Homo sapiens: one gene and its partners. The protein of the gene in region 2 purifies or fractionates together with the protein of the main gene of each other region. This does not show direct contact. Each region holds a gene or a part of one and is shown on either strand. Other genes may lie near its edges.

The links.
Region 1: the proteins of FSD1 (region 2) and MIB1 purify together in Homo sapiens (affinity purification with mass spectrometry; 3 studies listed by BioGRID and IntAct, with this or other methods). This does not show direct contact.
Region 3: the proteins of FSD1 (region 2) and ARL2BP purify together in Homo sapiens (affinity purification with mass spectrometry; 3 studies listed by BioGRID and IntAct, with this or other methods). This does not show direct contact.
Region 4: the proteins of FSD1 (region 2) and ARHGAP1 purify together in Homo sapiens (affinity purification with mass spectrometry; 3 studies listed by BioGRID and IntAct, with this or other methods). This does not show direct contact.

The regions. Positions count from the first base shown.
Region 1 is NC_000018.10:21,813,787-21,820,822, reverse strand, and holds part of MIB1 (E3 ubiquitin-protein ligase MIB1), read right to left. Parts: exon of another isoform or gene 6,928-7,036; coding exon of another isoform or gene 6,919-6,927; intron 5,208-6,918; coding exon 5,010-5,207; intron 3,200-5,009; exon of another isoform or gene 2,995-3,199; intron 1,329-2,994; coding exon 1,177-1,328; intron 1-1,176. UniProt on the Homo sapiens protein: E3 ubiquitin-protein ligase that mediates ubiquitination of Delta receptors, which act as ligands of Notch proteins.
Region 2 is NC_000019.10:4,300,629-4,307,628, forward strand, and holds the start of FSD1 (fibronectin type III and SPRY domain-containing protein 1), read left to right. Parts: upstream 1-3,969; 5' UTR 3,970-4,118; coding exon 4,119-4,133; intron 4,134-5,317; coding exon 5,318-5,413; intron 5,414-5,569; coding exon 5,570-5,701; intron 5,702-7,000. Other genes in the region: TMIGD2 (transmembrane and immunoglobulin domain-containing protein 2 isoform 1 precursor), read right to left, coding at 1,712-1,757. UniProt on the Homo sapiens protein: May be involved in microtubule organization and stabilization.
Region 3 is NC_000016.10:57,248,259-57,254,135, reverse strand, and holds the end of ARL2BP (ADP-ribosylation factor-like protein 2-binding protein), read right to left. Parts: exon of another isoform or gene 5,600-5,877; coding exon 5,493-5,599; exon of another isoform or gene 4,370-5,492; coding exon 4,284-4,369; exon of another isoform or gene 4,165-4,283; intron 3,726-4,164; coding exon 3,629-3,725; intron 2,433-3,628; exon of another isoform or gene 2,344-2,432; intron 1,971-2,343; coding exon 1,869-1,970; 3' UTR 501-1,868; downstream 1-500. UniProt on the Homo sapiens protein: Together with ARL2, plays a role in the nuclear translocation, retention and transcriptional activity of STAT3. May play a role as an effector of ARL2.
Region 4 is NC_000011.10:46,676,620-46,683,655, reverse strand, and holds the end of ARHGAP1 (rho GTPase-activating protein 1), read left to right. Parts: intron 1-1,473; coding exon 1,474-1,605; intron 1,606-2,276; coding exon 2,277-2,363; intron 2,364-2,546; coding exon 2,547-2,645; intron 2,646-2,908; coding exon 2,909-3,016; intron 3,017-3,092; coding exon 3,093-3,169; intron 3,170-3,373; coding exon 3,374-3,451; intron 3,452-3,879; coding exon 3,880-4,008; intron 4,009-4,187; coding exon 4,188-4,291; intron 4,292-4,430; coding exon 4,431-4,619; 3' UTR 4,620-6,576; downstream 6,577-7,036. UniProt on the Homo sapiens protein: GTPase activator for the Rho, Rac and Cdc42 proteins, converting them to the putatively inactive GDP-bound state. Cdc42 seems to be the preferred substrate.

The DNA of each region.
Region 1 (7,036 bases), on a different chromosome or scaffold from region 2:
TAATTAAATTCATCTCTATAAGCCTCATATTCTTCACGTGTAAAATGAGGATATTAACACCTGCCCCAAAAAGCTGTTGAAAGGATTAAGTGAGATGATGCATGTGAAGCACTTTGCAGAGGCTGGCATGTGGAAAGTGCTATCATAATCTTCTGTTTGAAGGGCAGGGAAATATAATACTACTGTCTTCTTCACAATGCCAAAATCTGAAGTGTTCAAATATTTGCAATTTGGAAAAAAAATCAAGATGTGATCTAAAATATGATCATTCATTTTGTCCTACAATATATACCCACTGTTACAGTTACCAATAAGCAGTAGCAATAAAATCCTTTTGTTTCCTGTGGTCACCCTCTAGTGGTGATCCTAAGAAGCTAAAGGAAACATGATATAAAAATACAATAAGGAACCAAAGAATAAGTGTTCAGAATAGATAAAATTATCAAAATAAAAATCAAAGTGAAGATTTTTCTTAGTCCAGGTATACAGGTTTGACTCAAACATAAACAGAAGACATCCAATGCAGAATTTCCTAAAATGCTTAGGGTAAAGTTGTTCCAAAAAGTGAGTTAATGGAAATCTCTAAATTAAGCAAAGCTAAGCATTTTCCCATTCTGTGGGACACCGCAGATCCTTCATAAAGAATGTGATTCTCCAAAAGGAGTCTTTCTCAAATGTCAACCAGCAAATACTTTTTTCAGTAGAATACTATTGCTGTAACAATGGATGAGGGGATAGCTATACTAGAAGTTTATATAACTAATTACATTATTAATAAGGAATTAGGTAACTTAGTATTTATTTAGTCTTAAGTTTTAAAAAATAATTATCGTGCAAATGGCAACATGAAATTAGAGGACACCCAGATAATTATTTTGAAGAAACATAAATCTCAAAATAAAATGCATTTTAATTAAATCTTTAGAAAGAAACTAGTATTCCTGATATTTTACAACCACATTTAATATAAACTTAAATAATCATTTCATAATATTTGTATTAGATTAACAACCAAATAATCATCATATAAAACTAAAGGCATAATATTCACAAAACTTTAAAATGATTTAAAATACTAAAATAGCCAAAATTATTTCTTCATCAGTATCAGAAAAAGAGAATCAACAGTAGGAAAATATTTTTGAATTGCACCTAAAATAGTAAGGGGTGACATACCTGGGATTTCCCCTTAGTGCAGCATGATGCAGAGCATTAAATCCATTATTGTTTGTGATGGTAACATCTGCTCCAGCTTCCAAAAGAACTGCTAGGATATCATCACGTTTCTTACTTATTGCATCATGAAGAGGGGTATCACCTTCAGAATCCTTTAAGTTTAAAGAAATTTTCATTAGTTCTTCAATTAATTATCCCATCTAATAGTAATACTTACACCAAATGCTAAGCAAACAGAAGCAGAGACCACATCCAACAAATACCAATAAAAGAGCACTTTCTGTGATAACTACAAAAATATAGGCAAAGGCTGGGCATGCTGGCTCATGTCTGTAACCCTAGCACTTTGGGAGGCTGAGGCGGGAGGATCAGCAGAGGCCAGGAGTTCAACACCAACCTGGGCAACATATAGAGACCTTGTCCCTACAAAAAATTTTAAAAATTAGCCGGGCACGGCGGTGTGCACCTATAGTCCTAGGTACTCAGGAGGCTGAGGCAGAAGAATGGCTTGAGCCCAGGAGTTCAAGGCTCCAGTGAGCTATGATCATGCCACTGCACTCCAGCCAGGGTGACAGAGCGAGACTCTATCTCCAAAAATATAAAAAACAAAAATACAGGCAAGAAACACTGGCCACATTATAGTAAGGAAAGACATACTCAAATCTAGTTGGAAAACAAAATAAGCATGCTGGAATTTTTTTTTCTTTTTTTTGAGACCAAGTTTCGCTCTTTCACTCAGGCTGGAGTACAATAGCGCGATCTCAGCTCACTGCAACCTCCACTTTCCGGTTTCAAGCGATTCTCCTGCCTCAGCCTCCCAAGTAACTGGGATTACAGGCACCCACCACCATGCCCAGCTAATTTTTGTATTTTTAGTAGAGACGGGGTTTCACCACGTTGGCCAGGCTGGTCTCAGACTCCTGACCTCGTGATCTGCCCACCTCAGCCTCCCACAGTGCTGGGATTACAGGCGTGAGCCACCTTGCCCGGCAAAGTTCTTTTTTTGTAGAGATGGGGGTCTCAGTATGTTGCCCATGCTGGTCTTGAACTCCTGTGCTCAAGTGATCCTCCCACATGAGCCTCTCAAGGTGTTGGGATTACAGGCATAAGCCACCACTCCTGGCACATGCTGAAGCTTTACAAAGCAAAAAGAAAAGAAAAGAAGTAGCCTCAAATATAACTAATGACAAAAACCAGTGAAGTGATAAAGCTGCCCCCCAAATTTTATAAGTTTAAAATGGCCTTAATTGTCATACCCTGAAATTCCATACCAAACCTACACCATAACAATGAATTGAAAGTCGGTGGCTTTCAAACTTGGCTGCTCATTAGAACCTGCTGGGGAGATCTTTTAAAATCTGTTGTACAGAGGAAAAAAAAGAGAAAAAAAAATCTGATGTCCAGGCTGTTCACCATACTAAATCTCTAGAGGTGAGAGTGAGGCATGAGTAATTTTTCAAAGCTCCACAGATGAACATCTTGTGCAGTCACAGGTGAGAAACATTAATCTAAGCGTTTTCAAAGGGCAGCAAAGTGGCTAGTTAGCCAAAGGTAAAACAATTGTAAATTAAAATTTAGCAATCTCAGTCTACCATTTTTTCAAGCTGACTACTTTTTACATTAATCAATTGACTTAGCAGTAAGTTTTTATTCATTAGCAGTCATGTACAGACATGAATAATTTAAATTTCATTCATTTCATAGTTGAACAGATGCTATTCTCAGTAAAGTCATATACAACCTGGCCTACAGCATATACTACAGTTGCCAAATTCAGTTTGCCACTTGTTTTTTGTTTGTTTTATTCTTTTTTACTAGACATATTTCCTGCATGGTTTGTCTCCCCAGTCACTGTCCACAGGATTCTGAGAAGCTACAGGAATATGAAAGTGCAAACACCAGACCCAGCTTCATCTCCAACACTGAGGAAAGGGACTGTACATCATGGGGCAGAGCCCTATGCTCCCCTAAGCCATGTGGACAAAGCCTAGAAAAAATGATATCCCAGGATATTACACATTGGAGCCACCTGTTTTTGTAAATTAAGTTTTATTGGAACACAGCCACACCCATTCATTTATGTATTATCTATGGCTGCTTTCATTCTGCAATGAGAGTTAGATAGTTGTGGCAAAAGCCAATAAGCCACTATTATCTGTGCCCAATATAGAAAATGTTTGCTAATCCCAGGAATATATTCATCCACCTACATAAAGAATTCCTGCTAGGCATGGTGGCTCACACCGGTAATCCCAGGACTTTGGGAGGTGGGAGCAGGAAGATTGCTTGAGACCAGAAGTTTGAGACCAACCTGGGCATTTCTACAAAAAATTAGCCAGGCATGGCAGCTCACACCTGTAGTCCCAGCTACTCGGGAGGCTGAGGTGGGCCCTGAAGGTTGAGACTGCAATGAGCCATGATCACGCCACTGAATTCCAGCCTGGGCAACAGAGCAAGACCCTGCCTCAAAAAAAAAAAAAAAAAAAAAAAAAGAATTCCTAACCCAAGTTCAATCCAACCATCTACCATCTACCTTCTACTCCTGTATCTGGCGGCACTAAAAATCTGTAGTGTTCAACCTGAAACGGGCTTCTAACATGATTGGAACACCCTTCTGCAGGTCCCCAAGTCCTTATCACTCTTCTCAATTACTCTTTCTCTACCCACCACTCTCAACAGATGAACTTGTCTCCCATTTCAGACAAAAAACGTCAGCAGGTATAAATCACCTCTCCTTACAGATTAACACCCCCCCAATTCTTCCCTCATCCTCCAATCCTGCCTCCCACTTACAAGGACATACTCTAGATCCCAACAGTTCCAAAACAGCTGCACTTCAAAAACCTTAATTTCTAATAATTATCTAGCTGAACAAAATCTATTCTTTCAGTTCTTCTCAAGCCCTCATTCCCACTACTACTGTTCTTTATTTCTTCTCTGAGATCTATCCAATCCAGCAACCAATTCCTGGATGCTGTAAATTATCTAAACTACAAGCAGCTTATGATTCTAACCACTGCCCTACTTTTTAAAAAATCATTATTGAGTTTCCAATGGAAACAAATTATGTTTTACATATTCAAATAGTATTTCAGGGAACACTTTTATTTAAAAATAATATGTTGTTTCAAGCCTATTCGGTTAAGGAACCTAAAAGTTGGCAAATTAGATTCAGGAGCTACAAAATTACTAAGTATAGAAACTTTAATCAAACAGGTGCACAAAAGACAAGTTGCTTAGTAACCAAACTAAGCAGAAAATGGACACAGACTACATTTTCTATATATTTGTGGTTTAATTTATCTGGTTATAAAACTGTAGCTGGGGATAATCATTTCTTAGGCAATCATTGCTTCAAAAATTAGATCCTACTGTAAATCAACTCTAAAATCCTATACATTTTCCAAAACAGAAATCTCCGAAGATTACACTAACGACTATTCAAAGTCCCTAAGCTACAATAAAAGCTACAATTAAAATAATTTAAATAGTTATGAAGTAACTATTATGAAATATAGCCTATTACACTTCTTTAAGCTGTTGAGCTCACTGTCATGATCAATAAAGTTAAATCCATTCATAAGCTGATATTTTTACAAAGAAGTCCTCATTCTCCCTGCCCAATCAAAACCCAATCTATTGGCATTTTCCCTAAAAAAAAACAACTTTTTAAAAAAGAAATAGCTGCCAATTTTGTAACATCTTACGCCTTTGGTATCATTTACTATGACATATGAGAACGGTAACAAAGGAATGCTTACCATAGAACTTAATGTTTCCCTTTAATAGGATCCTAGCAATACCTGCAGGATGTGTTTCTTTAAAGGTTTTACCTGGAGACTGGGATGACAGCCAAAGTCCAATAAAGTCTTCACAACTTGAAGATGACCTTTATTGACAGCAATATGAAGTGGTGTCTGTCGGCGCTTGTTTCGAGCATTCAAATCAGCACTACCTCGATGTAGTACTTCTATAACAGCGCCTTCATCTCCAAAAGCTGCATGGTGAACTGCTCTATCACCATCTTTATCCTAATCATTAGTATTGAAATGTGAATTAGTGAATATTTTAGAAAGAAAAAAACCTTGAAGCTATAATAATATACCAAGAAGCAGATTAATTTGAGAAAAGGCAATGTAGGAAACAACAAAATAACTAGAACTTGACCAGGTGCAGTGGCTCATGCCTGTAATCCCAGCACTTTGGGAGGACAAGGCAGAAGGATCACTTGAGGCCAAGTAAACTGTAAATGTGAGTAAGATTTCCAACAATACCAATCTGGGCAACATAGCAAGATCCTGTCTTGTAGAGAGAGCCAGGCATGGTGGCACCCACCTGTAGTCCCAGCTACTTGGGAGGCTGACACAGGAGGATTGCTTGAGCCAAGGAGTTTCAAGTTACAGTGAGCTATGATCGCACCACTGCACTCTGACCGGGGCAACAGAGTGAGACCCTGTCTCTATAAAAAAATTTTTTAAAACCTAGAAACTGACTTGAACAGTGACTAACTCCCAAAGATAAATGATAAACTTAGATCATTTTATATATATGTATTTATTTATTTATATATATACATTTATATATAATTTTATATATATATATATATATATATATATATATATATATATATATATAAAACCAACAGCTTGAACTTTCAGCATTCCTCATTTATCAGCCATGATGGTAAGCCAATTTTTTTTGACATTTAAAAATTTTTACAAAGACCATTTTTGTTGTTGTTGTTGTTGTTGTTTTTAAAGAATCAGGGTCCTAGGCCAGGCGCAGTGGCTCACACCTGTAATCCCAGCACTTTGGGAGGCCAAGGCGGGCGGATCACCTGAAGTTAGGAGTTCAAGACCAGCCTGGCCAACACGGAGAAAACCCGTCTCTACTAAAATTACAAACATTAGCCAGACATGGTGGCACATGCCTGTAATCCCAGCTACCCGGGAGGCTGAGGGAGGAGAACTGCTTGAATCCGGGAGGCAGAGGTTGCAGTGAGCTGAGATCGGGCCACTGCACTCCAAGCCTGAGCGACAGAGCAAGACTGCCTCTCAATAAAAAAAGAATCAGGGTCCTGTTCTGTCACCCAGGCTGGAATGCAGTGGCAGTCATAGCTCACTGCAGCCTTTAACTCCTGGCCTTAATAAATTCTCCAACTTCAGCCTCACAAAATGCTGGGATCATAGGTGTGAGCCACCGTGCACGTCCTACAAAGATGACACAAAAAGTAAACTAAGATGAGTTGTGTGATTGAAAAAAAAAAAAAGAATGCCAAACAATGTGATCTCAACTGGCTTTAATGGGGAGCAATTTATCAACACATTAAAACTGGTTAAGTGATGAGCATACATTTTTCTGTATATTCGAGAACAGAAAAAAAATTAAATACACCATTAAAAGATAAAAACGAAGCATAAACTACCAAAATTCCATATATCAAAAATTCCAAAACTATTTCAGAAGAATCAAATAGATTTGCCTCACCTCCTGTAACAGGCATATTTCTGAAGAAATGAGAAGGCAGGAAAGACCAAATTGCTTAAATTTTTTAAAACTAAAAGAAGGTACTTTATAAAGGGGAAAAACTGCCTGCACTGCGCCATGAAGGTAGTATACATAGCTTATACCAAAAAGTATGAAAAGAAGTCTCACTGCCTTGCCAGAAGCAGATGGAAAAGGGTAGTAGGTATAAGCGTATTGCATTTATTCCAATACTGCATTGCAAATTTTAACACCCACCAAGACCATGTGTCTGTCCCTGATCCTGGTACTCTAAGACTTCCTCCATCCAAAGCAGTGGTTTCCGATTCCCAATACCACTGTGCCAGCCCCTGGTGGACTCCCTAGTTTTGCAAGG
Region 2 (7,000 bases):
TACAAGTACATGCCACTGTGCTCAGCCTGACCAGGGATCTTAATGGAAAGGTATAACCAGTGTGAGAAGGAAGGTATTGGGGGGTAAGAGCATTCCAGGCAGTGCACAGCCCATGCAAAGGCCCTGGGGCAGGACTGTGCCTGGCGTGTTGGAGGAACAGCGAGGAGGCCCGTGTGGCTGGAGCAGAGTGAGGACAGGGAGAGAGGGAGGAAGGGTTGGGCAGGGCCTGTGAGCCTTGGGGTGGTGTGGGGAGGTGAAGGAAGTTAAGCAGTTTATGTTTTAATGTAAGTGTGATGGAAAATCAGAAAGCAGGGAAGAAATAGTCCAATTGAAGTTTTTGTTTTTGTTTTTGTTTTTGTTTTGAGATGGGGTCTCACTCTGTTGCCCAGGTGGGAGTGCAGTGGTGTGATCTCGGCTCATTGCAACCTCTGCCTCCCAGGTTCAAGTGATTCTTGTGGCTCAGCCTCTTGAGTAGCTGGGACTACAGGCACTCGCTACCACGCCCAGCTAATTTTTGTATTTTTGGTAGAGATGGGGTTTCACCAACATGGCCAGGCTGGTCTGGAACTCCTGACCTCAAGTGATCCACCTGCCTCAGTCTCCAATTTAAGTTTTAATAAAAAGACCTTGGTTGGGTGTGGTGGCTCATGCCTGTTATCCCAGCCCTTTGGGTGGCCAAGACTGGGTGATTGCTTGAGGCCAGGAGTTCAAGACCAGCCTGGGCAACATAGTGAGACCCATCTCTAAAAAACAAAAATGACTGGGCACGGTGGCTCACGCCTGTAATCCCAGCACTTTGGGAGGCCAAGGTGGGTGGATCATGAGGTCAGGAGTTCGAGACCCACCTGGCCGAGATGGCGAAACCCCGTCTCTACTAAAAATACAAAAAAAATTAGCCAGGCGCAGTGGCGCGCGCCTGCAGTCCCAGCTACTCGGGAGCCTGAGGCAGGAGAATCTCTTGAACCTGGGAGGCAGAGGTTGCAGTCAACCGAGATCGCGTCACTGCACTCTAGCCTGGGTGACAGAGCAAGACTCCTTCTCAAAACAAAACAAAACAAACAAACAAAAAAACACAAATGAACAACAAAAAAGTGCAAGCGGCTGGAATCAGAGGAGAGGGAAAGAGGAATGGAGGTTTTCGCCCCAGGAAATGTGTGAAGGGCAGCAGCCTTTGTCCTTAATTGGAAACACAGAGGGAGCTGCTGCCGGAGTAGAAAGTCTGCTTTTAGCTGTGAGAAGTCTGACGTGTCTGTTAGACCCCCGGAGAAGTTGAGGTTATGTGAAGTTCCTGGCATTTGAGATGCAATTGCAGAGGAGGGTAGAGACATGAGATCTGGAGAAGGGTATTAGGCAGCTGGAACAGCAGGTGCAAAGGCTCGAAGGCCAGATCCAGCCTTCCCATTGCGGAAACAGAGAAAGAAAAGTCCCCAGGCTAGAGCAAGAGGGAGGGAGCAAAGGCACTGCGGAGGGTGGAGATGAGAGAGGCCAGGCCAGGCTGGTATGTAGGGCAAGGTTTAGATTGTATCCTAGGGGCCCTCAGAGGATCCTTCCTTAATCCTCCAGCCCCCATCACGTTCTGAGTCTCGGAGGGAGATGGGCCTTATCTGACAGTAGAGAGACTGAAGTTTAGAGGGGCCCTGAGCTGGGGGGCAGGCAGCTGGGGATGACAGCAAGAGTGGGGTTCAGAGGGGAGGGAGGCCCAGATACTCACCCCAGATCTGCACCAGGAGGCCCAGCACCATGCCCGGGGACCCCATTCCTGGCCCATCACCCCCCTCTCCCCCTCCCAGTTGACAGACTTCCTGCCACAATCTCCGCCTCCCGCTGCAGAAGCAGATGCAACACCCAGGGCCAGACAACAGACGTCCGGTGTTCCAGCCTGCTGGGGGCTCCACTTCCTGCCACCTCGTGCCTCAGTTTCCCCAATGCATTTTCTATCTGAAAGGCAGTGTACGGACCAGGCAACATGGCTCATGTCTGTAATCCCAGCACTTTGGGAGGCCGAGGCAGGTGGATCACCTGAGGTCAGGAGTTCGAGACCAGCTTGGCCAACATGATGAAACCCCTACTAATTTCTACTAAAAATACAGAAATTAGCTGGACATGGTGATGGGCGCCTATAATCCCAGCTACTTGGGAGGCTGAGGCAGGAGAATGGCTTAAACCCGGGAGGCGGAGGTTGCAGTGAGCCAAGATCACGCCACTGCACTCCAGCCTGGGCGACAAGAGTGAAACTCCGTCTCAGAAAAAAAGAAAAGAAAGGCAGTGTATGCAAGTGAGTGGGAGGAATCCACCCCTGTGAGCTTTCTGGAAGGCTCTACATAAACACATCTAGGTACAGGAAGACACAGTGCGAGAGCAGGTGGCTCCGTGGGGGAGGGGCAGGCGACATAGGCCTGAGCAGTGAGTTAAATGACAGGGTCCCTGCCTCAATTATTTTGCTCCCAAAATGTCTTTCTTTTGCTGGGCGCTGTAGCTCACACCTGTAATCCCAGCACTTTGTGAGGCTGAGGTGGGAGGATCACTTGAGCCGAGTTTAAGATCAACCTGGGGTAACACAGCGAGATCCAATCTCTATTAAAAAAAAAAAAAAAAAAAAAAAGATACAGGCTGGGCATGGTGGCCCAGGCCTGTAATCCCAGCACTTTGGGAGGCCAAGGCGGGTGGATCACCTGAGGTCAGGAGTTCAAGACCAGCCTAGCCAACATGGCAAAACCCGGTCTCTACTAAAAATACAAAAATTAGCTGGGCCTAGTGGTGGGCGCCTGTAGTCCCAGCTACTCAGTGGGGTTGAGGCAGGAGAATCGCCAGAACTGGGGAGATGGAGATTACAGGGAGCCGAGATCCTGCCACTGCACTCCAGCCTGGGCGACAGAGTGAGACTGTGTCTCAAAAAAAAAAAAAAAGATACAAAACCAACCCAGGGTGATGGTGCATGCCTATAGTCCCAGCCACTCGGGAGGCTGAGGCAGGAGAACCGCTTGAGCCCAGGAGTTGGAGGCTGCAGTAAGCCATGATTGCGCCCCGTTACTCCAGCCTGGGCAACAGAGTGAGTCCGTCTCTAAAAAAAAATAATAATAATAATTTAAAAAATCTTCCTTTGAGGTTCAGAGAAATAGATTTCTGTTGATAACTTTGGGTCCTATTACATGACCTGCTTGGGGGTCCCGTGGAGGAGGTTCATGGGCTCTCGAGTTCCTCCCAGCCCTGCATCCCTCACCCCTGATTCTGTAGTGCATTCTGGGAGGAGGTGGCGAACCCACAGACCTCAATGTCTCAGACCCAACTGCAGAGTGACCTCCTTTCTCACTCGGACCTAGAAGGCCTGCATCGTACACAGCGTTCCCCTCCACCACAGGGAGGTTCTGCGGTGGCTATGCCTGCACCTCCCCTGCAGACACGTACACCCGCCCAGCCTCCCCTACCCACTCCTTCCCCTCCCCAGAACATTCTGAAGCTCCACCCTTCCCCCCACCGTCTGCTGAGGGACCCTGGATAGATTAGCCCCCAGGTCCTTCCAAAGCTGGACCCAGACATTCTTAGCTTCCGCACCTGGGCTGGCACGGAGACTTCTGGAGGAGCTGTTGGAGCCTGGGGCTTTGTGGGGTGTATAGGAGTTCAGTTGTGACATAGGGACAAATGGAAAGAAGGCACTGGAGGCTAAACACCCTCTTGGGCAAAAGCCTTAGATTTTCAGTAAATGCCAGGCGGGCTAGACAATTTGAGTAGCAACGGATAACCTGTGTGAGTGAACAAGTGGGGAAACTGAGGCACGGGAGCATTAGAGATGATTCTGAGGTCCCACGGCAGGGCCAGGGGTCGAGCCCCTTGTCTTCTCATCCAAGGCTCTCTCCAGCTCACATATCACCACCAACACCGCCCAGTGAGCCCCAGGCGCTGGATGTGAGGGCTCTGGGCGAGGCCAGCGCGGAACTACATTTCCCAGGCGGCCGCGGCGGGTGCGCCTGCGCAATGCGCGCGGTGATGGAGCGCTAACCGGGGGCGCGGCGGCGGCGAGGGCTCGGCGGGCCATTGGCTACCGGCCGCGGCAAAGGCAGCTTGGGGACCCAGCGTGCGCGGGGCCCGCGGGCCGGGCCGGGGTGACCTGGGCTGCAGCCATGGAAGAACAGAGGGTAGGACGGGGTGGGGCAGGGCGGGCCCGCAGGGGCGTCGGGGGCGGGGAAGGGGACCAGGTGTTGCCGCAGCGCCCCCACTCCCTCCCCGCCTCCACCCCAGCTGCTCTGCGGCTGAGGCCCCACCCCATTCGCGACCCCGCCCGGATCTAGCCCCCCTACCCCAGTTTGGGACGCAGCCCCCCCACATCTTGGCTTGGGGCCAGGCACGTGCCTTCTACGCCCCCCCACCCTGCCCAGTATCCCAGTCCCATCCCTGACCCCCATCCCCCACGCCCTCCCTCCTGGCCGCGGACCAGGCGTCCCGGCCCCCCGCCCCACCCCTGGAAGACGCCCCGCCAGCTCCGCAGTGCGGACCCCACCGACCCTGCCCCAGGAAAAAGGAGCAGGTTGGAGCCTGGGTCAGAGCAAGAGGCTCCCGAGCGGGATCCTCCCTCCCAGAATCCCCTGCCCTTCCCCAAGACCTCCCTGCCCCCTCCCCGCTTACCTGGCGCCCCCGCATCCCTGGCCCCCAGGTTCCACCTTTGCCCAGGTAATTTCTTTCTCCTTGCTTATCTTTCTCCCCCAGGTAGGCCCCACCCCTGTTCCGAGGCTAGCCCCTATCCCAGGCTATCCCACCTCCCTGGGGTTTTTCCTTCCACCGAGAACCCTTTCCCCAGGTTAGCCCATTTTCCAGCAGACATCCTTCTCCTCTGGGGTTTTCTGTCCTCAGGCTAGCCCCTCACGCCCCACCTTCAGGATGTAGGTATCGGGTTGTAGCCTTTGTGCTCAAGCACGCCTGGTTCGGGGCCAGGGTCTGTCCCTTCCTGAGAGGTTCTCTGTGAGCCTCAGTTTCCTCTCCTGTAATATGGGGTAGCTTAGGGCGCCCAGCTGCTATGGGTGAATTGTATCAGCCCGGAGCTTTACCTCCTGGCTGGTGCCCAAGCTCAATAGCGTGGCAGCCCCCACATCTCCTCTCTGGATCCCTGGAGGGGAGCGCGGGTCAGGGAGCCTGGCCAGGCTGACGGGCTCACCTGCCTGCCGTGTGTGTGTGCGCATGTGTGTGCATGTGTGTGCGCACGCGTGTGCATTTATGTACGTGTGTGCATGTGTGTGCACGTGTGTACATGTGCGTACACGTGTGTGTACCTGTGTGCGCACATGTGTGTGTGCACCTGTGTGTGTCCACACTTCTGGTGGTGCAGGAGGCCCTGAGGAAGATCATCAAAACACTGGCTGTGAAGAATGAAGAAATTCAGAGCTTTATCTACTCCCTGAAACAGATGCTGCTGAACGTGGAGGTGAAGGCGGTGGGGCAGTCCTGGGGAGGTAAGGGGAGGGGAGGAAGCTGGAGGGTGCAGCCTTAGGAACTGGCCCATTGCTGTTGATGCCTGTGGGAGGTCTCAGGTTCCCTCTCTGAACACGGGCTTTGGCCGATTCTGGCTGTTCCGACCCAGGCGAACTCGGCGAAGGTGCAGGAGGACCTCGAAGCAGAGTTCCAGTCCCTCTTCTCCCTCCTGGAGGAGCTGAAAGAAGGCATGCTTATGAAGATAAAACAGGACCGTGCCAGCCGTACCTACGAGCTGCAGGTGAGGGCTGAGGGCATCTTCCTCTCCCCCCGCCCCTCCTACTCAACAGAACGTAGCTGACCTCGGCACCTTCCTCCAAAAACTGGGTGCTCTCGAGTTTCTGATCTCTCCCCTGACCCCTCCATCCACCTGTACACTCTCTCTTTTTTTTTTTTGAGACGGAGGTCTCGCTCTGTCGCCCAGGCTGGAGTGCAGTGGCATGATATCGGCTCACTGCAACCTCCGCCTCCTGGGTTCAAGCAATTCTCCTACCTCAGCCTCCCAAGTAGCTGGGATTACAGGTACCCGCCATCATGCTGGGCTAATTTTCGTATTTTTAGTAGAGATGGGGTTTCACCGTGTGGGCCAAGCTGACCTCAGGTGATCCTCCTGCCTCAGCCTCCCAAAGTGCTGGGATGACAGGCATGAGCCCCCGCGCCTGGCCCATCTGTGCTCTCTCTGAATCCCCTCTCCATCACGGCGTCCCCGAGTCTGGCTCAGATCTTCCCCTCCTGTCTTCACTCAGTGCCTCCGGTTTCTCAGCCCTTCCCACTGGCCCCCCAGATCTGAAGGTATCACCTCCACTCAAACACCACCCATGGCTCCCGTGGGCTGTCACTCAGACTCCAAGCTGGAGTCACACAGGCTGCATCCAGACCTCCTGGGCAACTTCCTGACATCCCAGATTCCTGTCCCAGGGGGAATCTAGAGCCCTGGAGCTCGGATGTGGCCTAGGCATGTGAGTTTTTGGTTTGTTTTGTTTTGAGACAGAGTCTTATTCTGTCACCCAGGCTGGAGTCCAGTGGCGCAATCATGCCTCACTGCAGCGTCCGCCTCCCAGGCTTAAGCGATTCTCCCATCTTAGCCTCCCAAGTAGCTGGGACCACAGGAAGGTGCCACCACGCCCAGCTCATTTTTGTATTTTTTGGTGGAGACTGGTTTTCACCATGTTGCCTAGACTAGTCTTGAACTCATGGGCTCAAGCGATCCTCCTGCCTTGGCCTCCCAAATTGCTGGGATTACAGGCATGAGCCTCTGTGCCTGGCTCATGTGAGTTTTTTTTGTTTTGTTTTGTTTTTGAGATGGAGTCTCTCTCTGTGACCCAGGCTGGATCAGTTGCACAACCTCAGCTCACTGCAACCTCCGCCTCCCGGGTTCAAGTGATTCTCCTGCCTCAGCCTCCCGAGTAGCTGGGATTAGAGGTGCCCACCACCACACCCAGCTACTTTTTTCTATGTTTAGTGGAGACAGGGTTTCACTGTGTTGGCCAGGCTAGTCTTGAACTCCTGACCTCAGGTGATCCTCCCGCCTCAGCCTCCC
Region 3 (5,877 bases), on a different chromosome or scaffold from region 2:
AGGAGTTCAAGACCAGCCTGACCAACATGGTGAAACCCTGTCTCTACTAAAAATACAAAAATTAGCTGGGCGTGTTTGTGGACACCTATAATCCCGGCTGCTTGGGAGGCTGAGGCAGCAGAATCACTGGAACTCGGGAGGTGGAGGTTGCAGTGTGCCGAGATCGTGCCATTGCACTCCAGCCTGGGCAACAAAAGCAAAACTCCATTCCCAAAAAAAAAAGAAAAAAAAAAGGGTGAAAAACCAATTTGCCTTTATCATCGTTTTTTCATCATTTAATCTCTGGACTTGTCCACTGGCCTTTTCTCAAGTAGGCAGGCTGGTCCACAGGTCTTAGCAAGTGCTCCCAGCATGCCTGGGCTGTGGTGGACCTCCCATTTATAGACAAAGCAAGGGAAAGCAAGCCCAGGAGAGGTGGCATTTAAAAAAAAAAAAAAAAGACCAAAGCAATAATTAATAACCTTATGGCAGTGGCTACATTAAAGAAAGAATACAACTCATTGAGAATGGTGGTTCTTGCGAAACACCTGAAGTTTTACTCATGGTACAAAAGTATTTAATAAGTGACACATCAGTACAGAAACACAGAGCTTGTAGCTTGTCCTTTAAAACCAGAATGGCCAAGTGAAAAGTCAGTACAGATTCTTATTTTTACTATTAAAAAAAAAAAATCAAAGGGACACACTGGGAATTGAACTACTATGCTTTTTCTTCGTTCTAGAGATGACATATATGTTTTCTGATAAGTAATCTACCACACATTGCACTAAACCAAAGCATACAAACAGCCAGTAAAGCTGTGCTCTACCTGCTACTCATGCTGGGCTGGACAGTGGAACACCATCTTGGTAGGAGAGATTTTGACAGGAAGAAACTGCAGAGTCCCTACCTAACCCAGAGAACCTTACAAACTGGTTTATACACAAAGGATTTTCAGCAAACATGCAAACACACTAACATGCTATAGGAATATGTTTTAGTCTATTTCTAGCACACAGCATACATTCATAGGTGCCCAGTAAAATAGGAATGAATGTCAATGTAGAAAGCATTTTTGCCTTCACAGTACTAACAAACACCTAAAAAGCACACAGCATATAATACTTTGATCTTTAAGTGGATAATCATGGAAGTTCCAAGATCACATCCACTAGGTTAGCCTGAGTATTCATCTATAAAAATATTTTTTTTTTCAAAAATAATGCTTAAAAGAGACTTCTAGAAACAGTGGGACTACATCAGGACCAGAAGACAGTGACACAAGGACTGCAAATGTTAAGACTAGGAGTAGCTTTTCACATGGAGCTTTTATGTAGAGGACGTCTCCTTCTGTTGATTCCTACAGCCGAGACAAGATGTGATCACAGGAGACTCCAAAATCTCAAACTGGGCTTGAGTAACACCCTAGATAAACATCAGGAACCCCACTGAGGCTGAAGTACTGAAACTGTGGCCCATGTGAAAAAGAGGTGCAAGTGCACAAAGATTCATGCAGAGCCTGCTGGAACAGAGGGTGGTGGCGGCGGGTTAGTCCACACTTACACACCAGCAGGTATGCTGGGGAAGGGCCCCCCAGGTGGAGTGCCTGACATAGGGCTCGCTCCAGAGGCGTCTGACTCAGAAGCTCCTGAGAGAGGTGTCTACTTGAGGTGGGGAGGAGTACTATGGTTAATGAATACAAGAAGGTGTTTCAGGATAAATAGGTCCAGGAGGGTTAGGTCATTTTGGTTTTGACCTATTAATACTTAACATAAATGAAGAGTTACATAACAGAGTCAGTCTTTCCAAGATGTGTTCTGTCATCATGAGCTGAGCCTATTGGGCTGGTGACATCCAGAATGATCCCATTCATTGGCTGGAGGTAGGACCTAGTGCCGCAGATTGTTCTGGGAAGCTGGCAGAGAAGATGATTTGCACAATGAAGTCACCACTAAGCCACTGCTTAAGTCCAGTCCTCGGCCTTCTTTTTCCTATATGAGAAAACAACCAAAGGAAGGACTAGAAAGAGCCCTGGCTTGGAATCTTGCCTCTGACATGGGGAAGGCAGAGCTGAAGGTGGGAACGTGGACCTCCAGAGTACATAGGAAGGGAACACAGGTTATTGGTTATTCTGCATTTCTGCTCAATACTGGCCTGCCCTAGTCTTAATTTTTTTTAATATTATTTTTAAAGAGGTAGGGTCTTGCTCTGTCACCCAGGCTGGAGTATAGTGGCTTGATCACAGCTAACTGCTGCCTGGAATTCCTGGGCTCAAGTGGTCCTCCTGCCTCAGCCTCCTGAGTAGCTAGGACTACAGGTGTGCACCACTACAGCTGACTAACTTTTTTATTTTTATTTTTGTAGAGACAGGGTCTTGATATGTCACTTAGGCTGGTCTTGAACTCCTGGGCTCAAGTGATTCTCCTGCCTTGGCCTCCCAAAGCGCTGGAATTGTAAGTATGAGCCACTGTGTCCAGCCTGGCCCTGGTCATTCTTAAAATGCACTCTTAAAATGTACCTCCCTTCACTGGAAAACATTTTTCTTTCTTTCTTTTTTTTTTTTTTTGAGATAGGGGTCTTGCTATGTTGCCCAGGCTGGAGTGCAGTGGCTATTCACAGGCACCACTGCTGTGTAATACAGCCCCAAACTCCTAGGCTCAAGTGATTCTCCTGCCTCAGCCTTCGAAGTAGCTGGGACTACAGGCATGCACAACCACACCCAACACCATTTCTTTTTCTTTTCTTTTTTTTTTTTTGACACAGGGTCTGACTCTGTCACCCAGGCTGGACTGTAGCAGTACAATCACAGCTCACAGCAATCTCAACCTTCTGGGCTCAAGCGGTCCTCCCACCCAGCCCCCAAAGTAGCTGACTGGGACTACAGATGCACACCAGCACACCAAGCTAATTTTTGTATTTTTCATAGAGACAGGGTTTTGCCATGTTGCCTTGGCTGGTCTCAAACTCCTGAGCTCAAGCCATCTGCCTGCCTCGGCCTCCCAAAGTGCTGGGATTATAGGTGTGAGTTACCATGCCCAGTCTCCTATTTTTCTTATAAAGAGCTTGCATTATATGAAAAGCAAGGCAGGGCCAGGTGCGGTGGCTCACGCCTGTAATCCCAACACTTTGGGAGGCCGAGGCGGACCATGCTTCAGGAGTTTGAGACCAGCCTGGCCAACATGGTGAAACCCTGTCTCTACTAAAAATACAAGAATTAGCTGGGCGTGGTGGCAGGTGCCTGTAGTATCAGCTACTCGGGAGGCTGAGGCAGGAGTATTGCTTGAACCTGGAAGGCAGAGGTTCCAGTGAGCCAAGATGGTGCCACTGCACTCCAGCCTGGGTGACAAGAGCAAAACTCTGTCTCAAAAAAAAAAATAAATAAAAGAAAGGCAAGGCAGAATGAGACCTGAGACCTGCTTTTTCGGTTTTGTCCTTCTGATTAGGAACTCTAAGTTGGTACCTGGGCTTGTTTCATGAAAACATGAGAAGGTCCCAGCCACAACAGAATAGCAGCTCACTCTTCTGATGCCTCATCGGCCAGTTTGAAGGGAGAATGATGGGGGAAGCGTGGGAGGTTCATGTTCGGTATTTCTACCTGGAATTTTCTAAGTGGCTCAAAGTGGCTAAATAAATAGGAGTAGTAACTTACTGCTCTGTAGTCCAAAAACATTTCTTTAAAAGCCAGAAAATCTGTGAAGGTGAGCAGCATGTCGAATATGTCACCAGCCACTTCATCCTTATGGTGCCTGCAAACGGAACAGATGGCTGTTTCGTGAATGAATGATGAGACAGTCCTCAAGATTGCTTTCGTTTTTCTTTCCACCACCCCAGCCCCACCCCCCGCATTATTTTTGTTTTGTTTTTTTAGAGACTGGGTCTTGCTCTGTCACCCAGGCAGGAGTGCAGGGGTGCAATTATAGCTCACTGTAGCCTTGAACTGCTGGGCTCAAGGGATTCTCCAGCCTCAGCCTCCTGAGTAGCTAGGCCCACAGGTATGCAACACCACACCTGACTAATTTATTTTTTGTAGGGTCGGGGCCTCACTATGTCACCCAGGCTGGTCTTGAACTCCTGGGCTCAAGTGATCCTCCTCCCTTGGCCTCCCAAAGCACTGAGAACACAAGCGTGAGCCAATGCCTGATCTTTTCAAGATTTCATTAAAAGGTTTGAGGGCTTCCTCCATAGGACCTAACCACCAACGGCATGCACAGGAAAACAAACAAGGAGCGTCTTTTGGTCAGCCTAGGGAAGGAAGAAAGTGAGAAAACAAAACAAAACACAAAAATCAGTCAAGCTCAACTCACTGTAATGTTGTGGTGAAGGCTGCCATGTTGAACTCAGGAATCCGCTGCAGCAGCTGTTCTTCAATGTATTTTTCTACCAAAGAAATCTGCAACAGTGGAAAGGATTTTGGTGAGACCATACTTTGGGAAAACAAGACTTCTTTTCAGAAAGCCTGCCCAGCCCTTTCTAAACATTTCCTGAGGTCTGTGTGCCACAATCTACACTGAGTGCCAAGGATACCAAAGAGGACCAAAACACAGCTCCTGTCCTGGAGAAGTACTCAGCCTGGTGTGGAAGAGAAGCCTTAGCTGATAATGGTGCTGTAACAGGGTGGATGCTCTGACACAGGTGGAGACAGTGAGTAGCACGGTACCCACACCCACAACCCAGTGCAGGATGCAGTAAGTGGGGGCTTTGCCTCCTGGGTAGAGGGCATCTGTGTAACAGAACATACGGACATGGAGGCAGTCACAGGTTCCTTCTGGGCAGGTTTGTTTATGCCATGCTTCTGTGTTAAGAAAATAAAGTCCTGGAGGCCAAAATGGATTCTTAGATGACAGAATCCCAGGGGGCTGTTAAGAGGCCTCAGGGTAAAGTGTAGAGACCCAAGGGTGACGAGCTGAGGTTCCTGGGTTCCAGTCTTGGTTTTTCCACCAAATAGTTAGTGATCTTGGTCTCAGTTTTCACTTTTACTTAATAGTCATGCATATATGACTGGATTATATAGAAGAAAGAAAGAGTATGTGAAAGCAGAAAGGTTTGTCAAAAGCATGCAAATGCAAGGTATGAAGAACTCATGTACTGTGATTAAAAGCAGGATTATGATAAGCCAAACGTCTTTTATTTATTATCTTTATTATTATCATTTTTTTTTTAGAGACAGAGATCTTGCTGTGTTGCCCAGGCTGGTCTCAAACTCCTAAGCTCAAGTGATTCTTCCACCTCAACCTCCCAAATAGCTGGCACTACAGGTGTGCTACCAAGCCCAGGTCAAACTTCTTTTAAATAAGAAGCTGATGAGTTAATCAAATATTTGCCTGAAAGCCTTTTGGAAAATAGCCCCAAAGGCTGTGCAGAGGAAAATGAACTTAAACCAGATGCTAATGAGGATTCCTGGAAGTGTACTGGTGGCATATTTTAAAAGGCAGCAAATTTCAATGTCTTTTGAATCTAAATTTAAATTTTTAAAAACTCTGACCTCCTGGTAGGAGACATAGAAATCTACTTACGTATTCATTAAAAATAGGTGTGTAGATGAGTTTATTCTCTTCTGTGTCTTCAAACTCCAGGTAGTACTTGTCCATGAAATTTCTCTGTAATAACTGGAACTCGTCATCTGAACCACAGTGGGGAAAATTTATTCTTTTTAATGGAGATTACCAACCATTATGATTTATAAGTAGGCAGGATCTATGTCAGCAGTACTGCTTTCTCAATGATCAGTCTCTGGAAGGAAAGCTGATGTTTTAAGGGGGTATTAAATGGGACCCTGATGTGGAAATAGCCCAATCCTCCTGTTTTCTTTTTCTTTCTTTCTTTTTTTTTTTTTTTTTTTTTTTTTGAGCTGGAGTTTCTCTTGTTGCCCAGGCTGGAGTGCAATGGTGCGATCTCGGT
Region 4 (7,036 bases), on a different chromosome or scaffold from region 2:
AAAAAAAAAAAAGGAGAGGGCTTTACACACACTCCCTTCCCTTTCCCCAGTTCTTGTTCATTCCATCCATAACTCTCAGTGTGCTCAACACCAGGTGTGTATATGTTTGTGCTGAGCTGGTAGATAGCGTGTCATGAGCATAATAGGGAACCAGAGGAATTGGGGCTCTTTGGTCCACTAAAGGCCCAGTGACTGGAGCAGGTGACTCTCTGGCCACCCCATCCCCTCTCATGGGCACAGTGTTTTACCGCCGGCACTGGAGTTCATGTGTAGAAGGCAAAGCTGTCCCATGGTCAAGAATGCAGGCTTTCGGCCAGGTGCAGTGACTCATGCCTGTAATCTCCCAGCACTTTGGGAGGCTGAGGTGGGAGGATTGCTTGAGGCCAGGAACTCAAGACCAGCCTGGGCAACATAGTGAGACCTGTCTCTACAAAATAAAAAGTAGAAAAAAGAGCCGGGTGTGGTGGCTCACACCTGCGGTTCCTACTACTCAGGAGGCTGAGGCAGGAGGATAGCTTAAGCCTGGGAGGTCAAGGCTGCGGTGAGCTGTGATTGCGCTACGGTGCCCCAGCCTGGGTGACAGTAAGACCCTGTCTCAAAAAAAAAAAAAAAAAAAAAGCAGGCTTTGGTGTTAGACACTTCACTTCCAGGATCTACCACAAGCTGTGTGACCTTGGATCAGCACTTGACCTCTCTGGTCATTGCCTTCATTTGTAGGATGGGGATTACATCAGCCTCAGTTATAAGCAATGTATGAGCTAATGTATGTGAAGTGCTTGGCAGACACTAAAAACTTAATATTGAGAAATGGTGACTGTCATCATTATTATTGATTCAGAGAAATCCCTGATTCAGGGGAAACGTCATTCCCCTTTTCACTGCAGGCCTAGGCAGGCCCGGGTTAGGGTCCTGGTCTCCTGACATCTAGTTCCTGCTCAAGAGTGAGAACTGTTATTATTATTACTATTATTGAGACAGAGTTTCACTCTTGTTGCCCAGGCTGGAGTACAGTGCCACAATCTCTGCTCACTGAAACCTCCGCCTCCTGGGTTCAAGCGATTCTCCTGCCTCAGCCTCCTGAGTAGCTGGGATTACAGGCCTGCACCACCATGCTCGGCTAATTTTTGCATTTTTAGTAGAGATGGGGTTTCACCATGTTGGCCAGGCTGGTCTTGAACTCCTGACCTCAGGTGATCCACCCGCCTTGGCCTCCCAAAGTGTTGGGATTACAGGCATGAGCCACTGCGCCCGGCTGAGAGCTGTTATTACTATTCTCATTCCTCTGCCCAGCCTCTACCCTAGGCCTCCTCCACAGCAACCTGGTGACTGATTATGAGCCAGAACAGACTGTGCTAGGGGAGGGCCTGTGGGGAAGGGGCTGTGACGTGGTGGGAGACTCTTGGGGCTGCTTTCTGTCTTCGTGGGGCCGCCCCTGTGCACAGGGCAGGCCTGAGCAGGGCTTTTCCCTGGAAGGTACCTGAAGCACACCCTGGACCAGTACGTGGAGAGTGACTACACACTTCTGTATCTGCACCACGGCCTGACCAGCGACAACAAGCCCTCCCTCAGCTGGCTCCGTGATGCCTACCGGGAGTTTGACCGCAAGTGGGTTGGGGCATGGGGCCTGCACAGTCAGATCCAGAGGCAGCGGCTCTGCCAGCTTCCGGGCTGCCCTCCACTTGGGCAGGAGCTTATTCCAAGGCAGGGGGTGGCGGGGGCTGCCGTCTACGTCAATGTAAAGAATCTGCAGTCAGATCACCCTGGGCTTAAGTAAGGCCCAGTTTCTCAGCTTATTTGCACTCTGACCTCTTGTTTTACTTAACCTCTTTGAGCCTCCTGTTTTCTAATCTGTAAAATGAGACAGTGATGGCCCTTACCTCGCATGCTGGCCATGCATGTTCAAATCAGAAAATATGCACTGAGGCAGGGTGTGGTGGCTCACACCTGTAATCCCAGCACTTTGGGAAGCTGAGGCGGATGGATCACTTGAGGTCAGGAGTTCCAGACCAGCCTGGCCAACATGGTGAAACCCTGTCTCCGCTAAAAATACAAAAATTAGCTAGGTGTGGTGGTGGGTGCCTGTAATCCTAGTTACTCAGGAGGCTGAGGCAGGAGAATAGCTTGAATCCGGGAGGTGGAGGCTGCAATGAGCTGAGATCACACTCCAGCCTGGGTGAAGGAGACTCTGTCTCAAAAAAAAAAAGTATGCACTGGGACCCTAGCGTGGCACCTGTCCCACCACGCCTGCTCCTGAGTTGTCCATTCTGTCTCTGCAGGTACAAGAAAAACATCAAGGCCTTGTACATCGTGCATCCAACCATGTTCATCAAAACTCTGCTCATCCTCTTCAAGCCCCTCATCAGGTGAGTGGCCACGGGCAGGGCTGGTGGTCCCGGCTTGCCTGGAACTCTGAAGCTGGGAGGCTGGGCAGCCTGGGGACCACCAGGTGCGGCTGGGCTTCCGTCTGAACTGGGTGGGTGTTGAGGGGAGAGTGGAGGCCACCGGAAGCGGGCCCCCACAACCCAGGCCCTTTCTTCCACCAACAGCTTCAAGTTCGGGCAGAAGATCTTCTATGTGAATTACCTGAGCGAGCTGAGCGAGCACGTGAAGCTGGAGCAGCTGGGGATCCCTCGCCAAGTGCTCAAGTGAGGCGGGTGCGGCGGCTGGGGGCTCGTGAAGCCAGGGTAATGAGGACGTGTGTCCTGATTCAGAGACCGCGTGGGGCTTAGGCAGAGCAAGCCCGTGTCCCGACCTCTCCCAGGTCTTTGCTTTCTGCTGTGGAAAGCGGAGTTGTTACAGAGATCGCATGAGATGATCCTCCTGACCCCGCGTGGTCAATGCTTGATTGAATTGGCAGAGTGACTCCAGAGCCAGGCAGGACCTGACCCACCTCCCTCTACTCCTACAGATATGACGACTTCCTGAAATCCACACAGAAGAGCCCCGCGACAGCCCCCAAGCCCATGCCCCCACGGCCCCCCCTGCCCAACCAGCAGTTTGGAGTCTCGCTGCAGCAGTAAGTATGAAAGGTGGCTGGGCCACGGCGGGGCGGGAAGGGCTGCAGGCCCGGCTCACCAGCCTTTTTCCCGCAGCCTCCAGGAGAAGAATCCAGAGCAGGAGCCCATTCCCATTGTACTCAGGGAGACTGTTGCCTACTTACAGGCCCACGGTGAGTGCCGGGCCTGCCTCCTCACCAGCCAGGTCTCCCGGCTCCCTTCAGGAAGCTGGGGAAGCTGCTGGGCAGGGCAGAGGGAGGTCCTGCAAGCCTCAACGTCCCCACCCAGCCCTGCCTAGAACCCCAAGACAGAGAAGGGGCAGGGAATCCAGCCGGTGCCCAGCGCTCGGAGGCTCACCAGGCCCTACTGTTTCCCAGCTCTCACCACCGAGGGCATCTTCCGGAGGTCGGCCAACACCCAAGTGGTCCGGGAAGTGCAGCAGAAGTACAACATGGGTGAGCAGCCCTGGGCTGTTGCAGGGCCATATGTGTGTTACTGGTAGGGGGCTTCTCTGCCCTCTGCTGCCCTGTAAATGAGAGTCTCAGAGTCTCTTCCTGCTGGAGGTTTCCGTGGCTCTGGGTGTCACATAAGTCCTACTTCTGCCAGGCCTGCTGCCTCATCGGTCGGGCTCCCGGGTCCTGGGTATAGGCACATTCAGAGGCAAGGAATAACGGTGGGGTGTGCCGGGCCCCACTTCCCCAGATGGCCGGAACCTGCATTCTCTGATCACAGAGGAAGAGGGAGGCAGGTGTCAGAGGGCGCCCCTGGGAGGAGGGGCTTATGCAGTGTCCAGGGGCAGTCAGGCAGTGCGGCCCGCGTTGTCTGCAGATGGGTGCTGCCCTTCAGGCTGTGCCGAGCTTCTCTCACGCTGCCCCCACCCCAGGGCTGCCTGTGGATTTCGACCAGTACAATGAGCTGCACCTGCCAGCAGTCATCCTCAAGACCTTCCTCCGGGAGCTTCCTGAGCCCCTGCTCACCTTTGACCTCTACCCCCATGTGGTGGGCTTCCTCAGTGAGTCCCCATCTCTTCTGTTGGGCCTGGGGCTGGACTTGGGGCAGGTGCGCTGCAGGCTTTCGGGCCTAGGCGCCTCCCAGGGAAGACTGCTGGGGGTCTCCCCTCTAGCCTGCATCAGAGCGTCCTGAACCAGCCCAGCCTAGGGCCCCTATAACCCGGGCCTCCTTTCCTCATAGACATTGATGAAAGCCAGAGGGTGCCAGCGACACTGCAGGTCCTCCAGACGCTGCCCGAGGAGAACTACCAGGTGCTTCGTTTCCTGACTGCTTTCCTGGTGCAGGTGAGACCTTGGACTTGGCCTCTGGGGTGAAGGGAGGGGGAAGGAGGAGCTGCCGCCTCCTCTGCGCCCTGGTCATTGTTGCTGGGAGTGGGAGGCAGCATCTGTGGCTTCCTGCTGCAGTCCCTGATTCCCTCCACAGATTTCTGCACACAGTGACCAGAACAAGATGACCAACACTAACCTGGCTGTTGTTTTCGGCCCTAACCTGCTGTGGGCCAAGGATGCGGCCATCACCCTCAAGGCCATTAATCCCATCAACACCTTCACCAAGTTCCTTCTGGATCACCAAGGGGAGCTGTTCCCAAGCCCGGACCCCAGCGGGCTCTGAACCTGGCCCCTGCCCCACCAGCCCCTTCTCTGGTAGCCCGGGTTTGGACTCTTCCTCCTGGCATCAGGGGCCATGAAGCCCCCTGGAGAGAGATGTTGGAGCCACCCATCAGGCATGCTCTCCCCCACCTCTGTCCAGCCCGCCTCACGGCCCTGGCGGCCTCGCTGTTACCAGAAGACGTTTTTCTCTGCCTTACACTTCTCACTGCCTCTCTGGACACCGGGCTTTTGCTGGGCTCTCCAGAGCTGGGCTTGGCTCTTCCAGCTGGAGAAGGACTGAGCCCCAGTAACCCCTTTCCTGCTTTTTCCTGCCTCTGTTTCCCTAGCAAGTGTGGATGAATCAAATGACTGCCGGCTGGGCTGGTAGCAGGGGCCAGTCCTCCCCTCTTGATTGCTGGGAATGAGCAGCTGAGCTCTTTGGTGTGGACACCGCCCCAAGCTGAGGTGCCTCCCTATCTGGTAGGCTGCCCTGCTTTGCAGAAGCCCCACTGCATGAAGGCCTGAGTGCAAGCACCCTTGCTCCTGTACTGCCCCCAGCAGCGCAGTCTGGGGTATTTCCCCTGCTGAGGAGTGACAGGGCTGGAGACTGTGTCTGCTTTCTGCCTCCTCTTCCACACATCCTGGGTCAGCCTTTCCCAAGTGATACTGCCCCTGGGGTGTCCTAACCCCTTGGTTGTGCAGGGACTGGTAGCTTGGATGACATGGCTCAGAGTCCCAGCATCCACTTGAAACCTCCCTCTCCACCTCCCCGCCCCCGAGAGCTACAGCGTGTGATGGAATCAGTGACCGGCCAGGTTAGCCTCTCCCCTCTTGGCCTCCTTTCCCACACGGGCAGATCATCAGCCTTCATGTTCTTGTGGACCTGTCTGTTACGGAGTCACACTGGCCCCTGCCCCAGCCAGAGGTGACTCAGTGCCTCAGGATCTTATGGCTCCTTCCTCCAGCTGGGGGACTCTTAAAGGGGCTGGGGTAGAGACTAAGAGTGCCCGTAGGAGGGGCAGAGATTGTGCTGATAGGTCAGTCCAGATAGGTGGGTTCTAGCAATTTCCCCAGGGGATTAAGGGGCTCTAGGGCCACCTTTTTTTTTTTTTTTCTGAGATGGAGTCTCGCTCTGTCACCAGGCTGGAGTGCAGTGGCGCGATCTCGGCACACCTCCGCCTTCTGGGTTCAAGCAATTCTCCTGCCTCAGCCTCCTGAGTAGCTGGGACTATAGGTGCATGCCACCATGCCCAGCTAATTTTTGTATTTTTAGTAGAGACGGGGTTTCACCATGTTGGCCAGGATGGTCTCGATCTCCTGACCTCATGATCCACCCACCTCGGCCTCCCAAAGTGCTGGGATTCCAGGCGTGAGCCACTGCACCCGGCCAGCCCTGTTGTCTTTCAAAGAACCTCGGCCCCAGTGATGGCTGATCTCACTCCCACTGTCTCGTAGAATTACACTCCTTCCTGGGGATCCCTCTTCCTGCAGCCTTGTCCTTGGGGAGTACAGGGAAGTACCTGCAGTGACCCTGCCCCCATGACCTTGGCCAGGCAGGATGATTCCAGAGCCCGTACTGTGGGGATCCTCACTGACCAGCCCAGCCCCATCCGCAAGCCAGGCTGGGCCTGGGCATAACTTCGCTGGGCTCTCCCAAGACCATCAGCAGTGCATCCAGCCCCCTGGGGCCTGGGCTGCTGCTGGTTCTTCATCAGTCCCTTGGTCTCTAGCCTCGGCCAGGGCTGCTCTGCTCTCCGCCCTCCTTTGTGTATCAAGTGTCGCTCACAGCCCCATTCACTGGGGAGCCTTTCGGATCTATTTGGTCTTTCTCATGTCCCCCACTGGTCTGTACCCCAGGGAGCGGGTGCTTGTACTGTGTGAATCCAGTGTTCACATTCACACTTAATGACTTCCTTGGCACCAATCATGTATTTCACCGTTTGCACTTTTTGTATTTCAATAAAAATGTTGATGCAAAACTGCTCATCTGGATGTTGGGGAAATGAGTTGGGTGTGGAAGTTGGAAACTGGATGGGAAGTGTGGTGCGGTGGAGGAAGAGGAACAGATGGGGCCTCAGGAAGTCCCCTCCCCAGTCCGTCTGCCGCTTCCTCATCTTGTGCACTCGAGTGGTGATGAGGGCAGCTTCCTGACCAGCTTCTAGGCATGGAGGTGTCCACGGCCACCTTCCCGTTGTTTGTACCCCCAGCATTCCAGCAGGCCACCATGTGCTGCATCCTATGACCAGGGCCTCTCCTGTTTCCCAACTGGAAGGTACCGGAAGTTTGAAGGGATCTTAGATTTATCTAAGGCAAGCAGGGGGAAGAAAAGTGGTGTGGACTGTGATGGACAATGGTGTGGGATCTGGAGTCACACGAGAGTTTGAGTCCTCGTTCCCTCACGTGCCAGCTCTCACCGCTAACAGTCATCATCACTGGCTC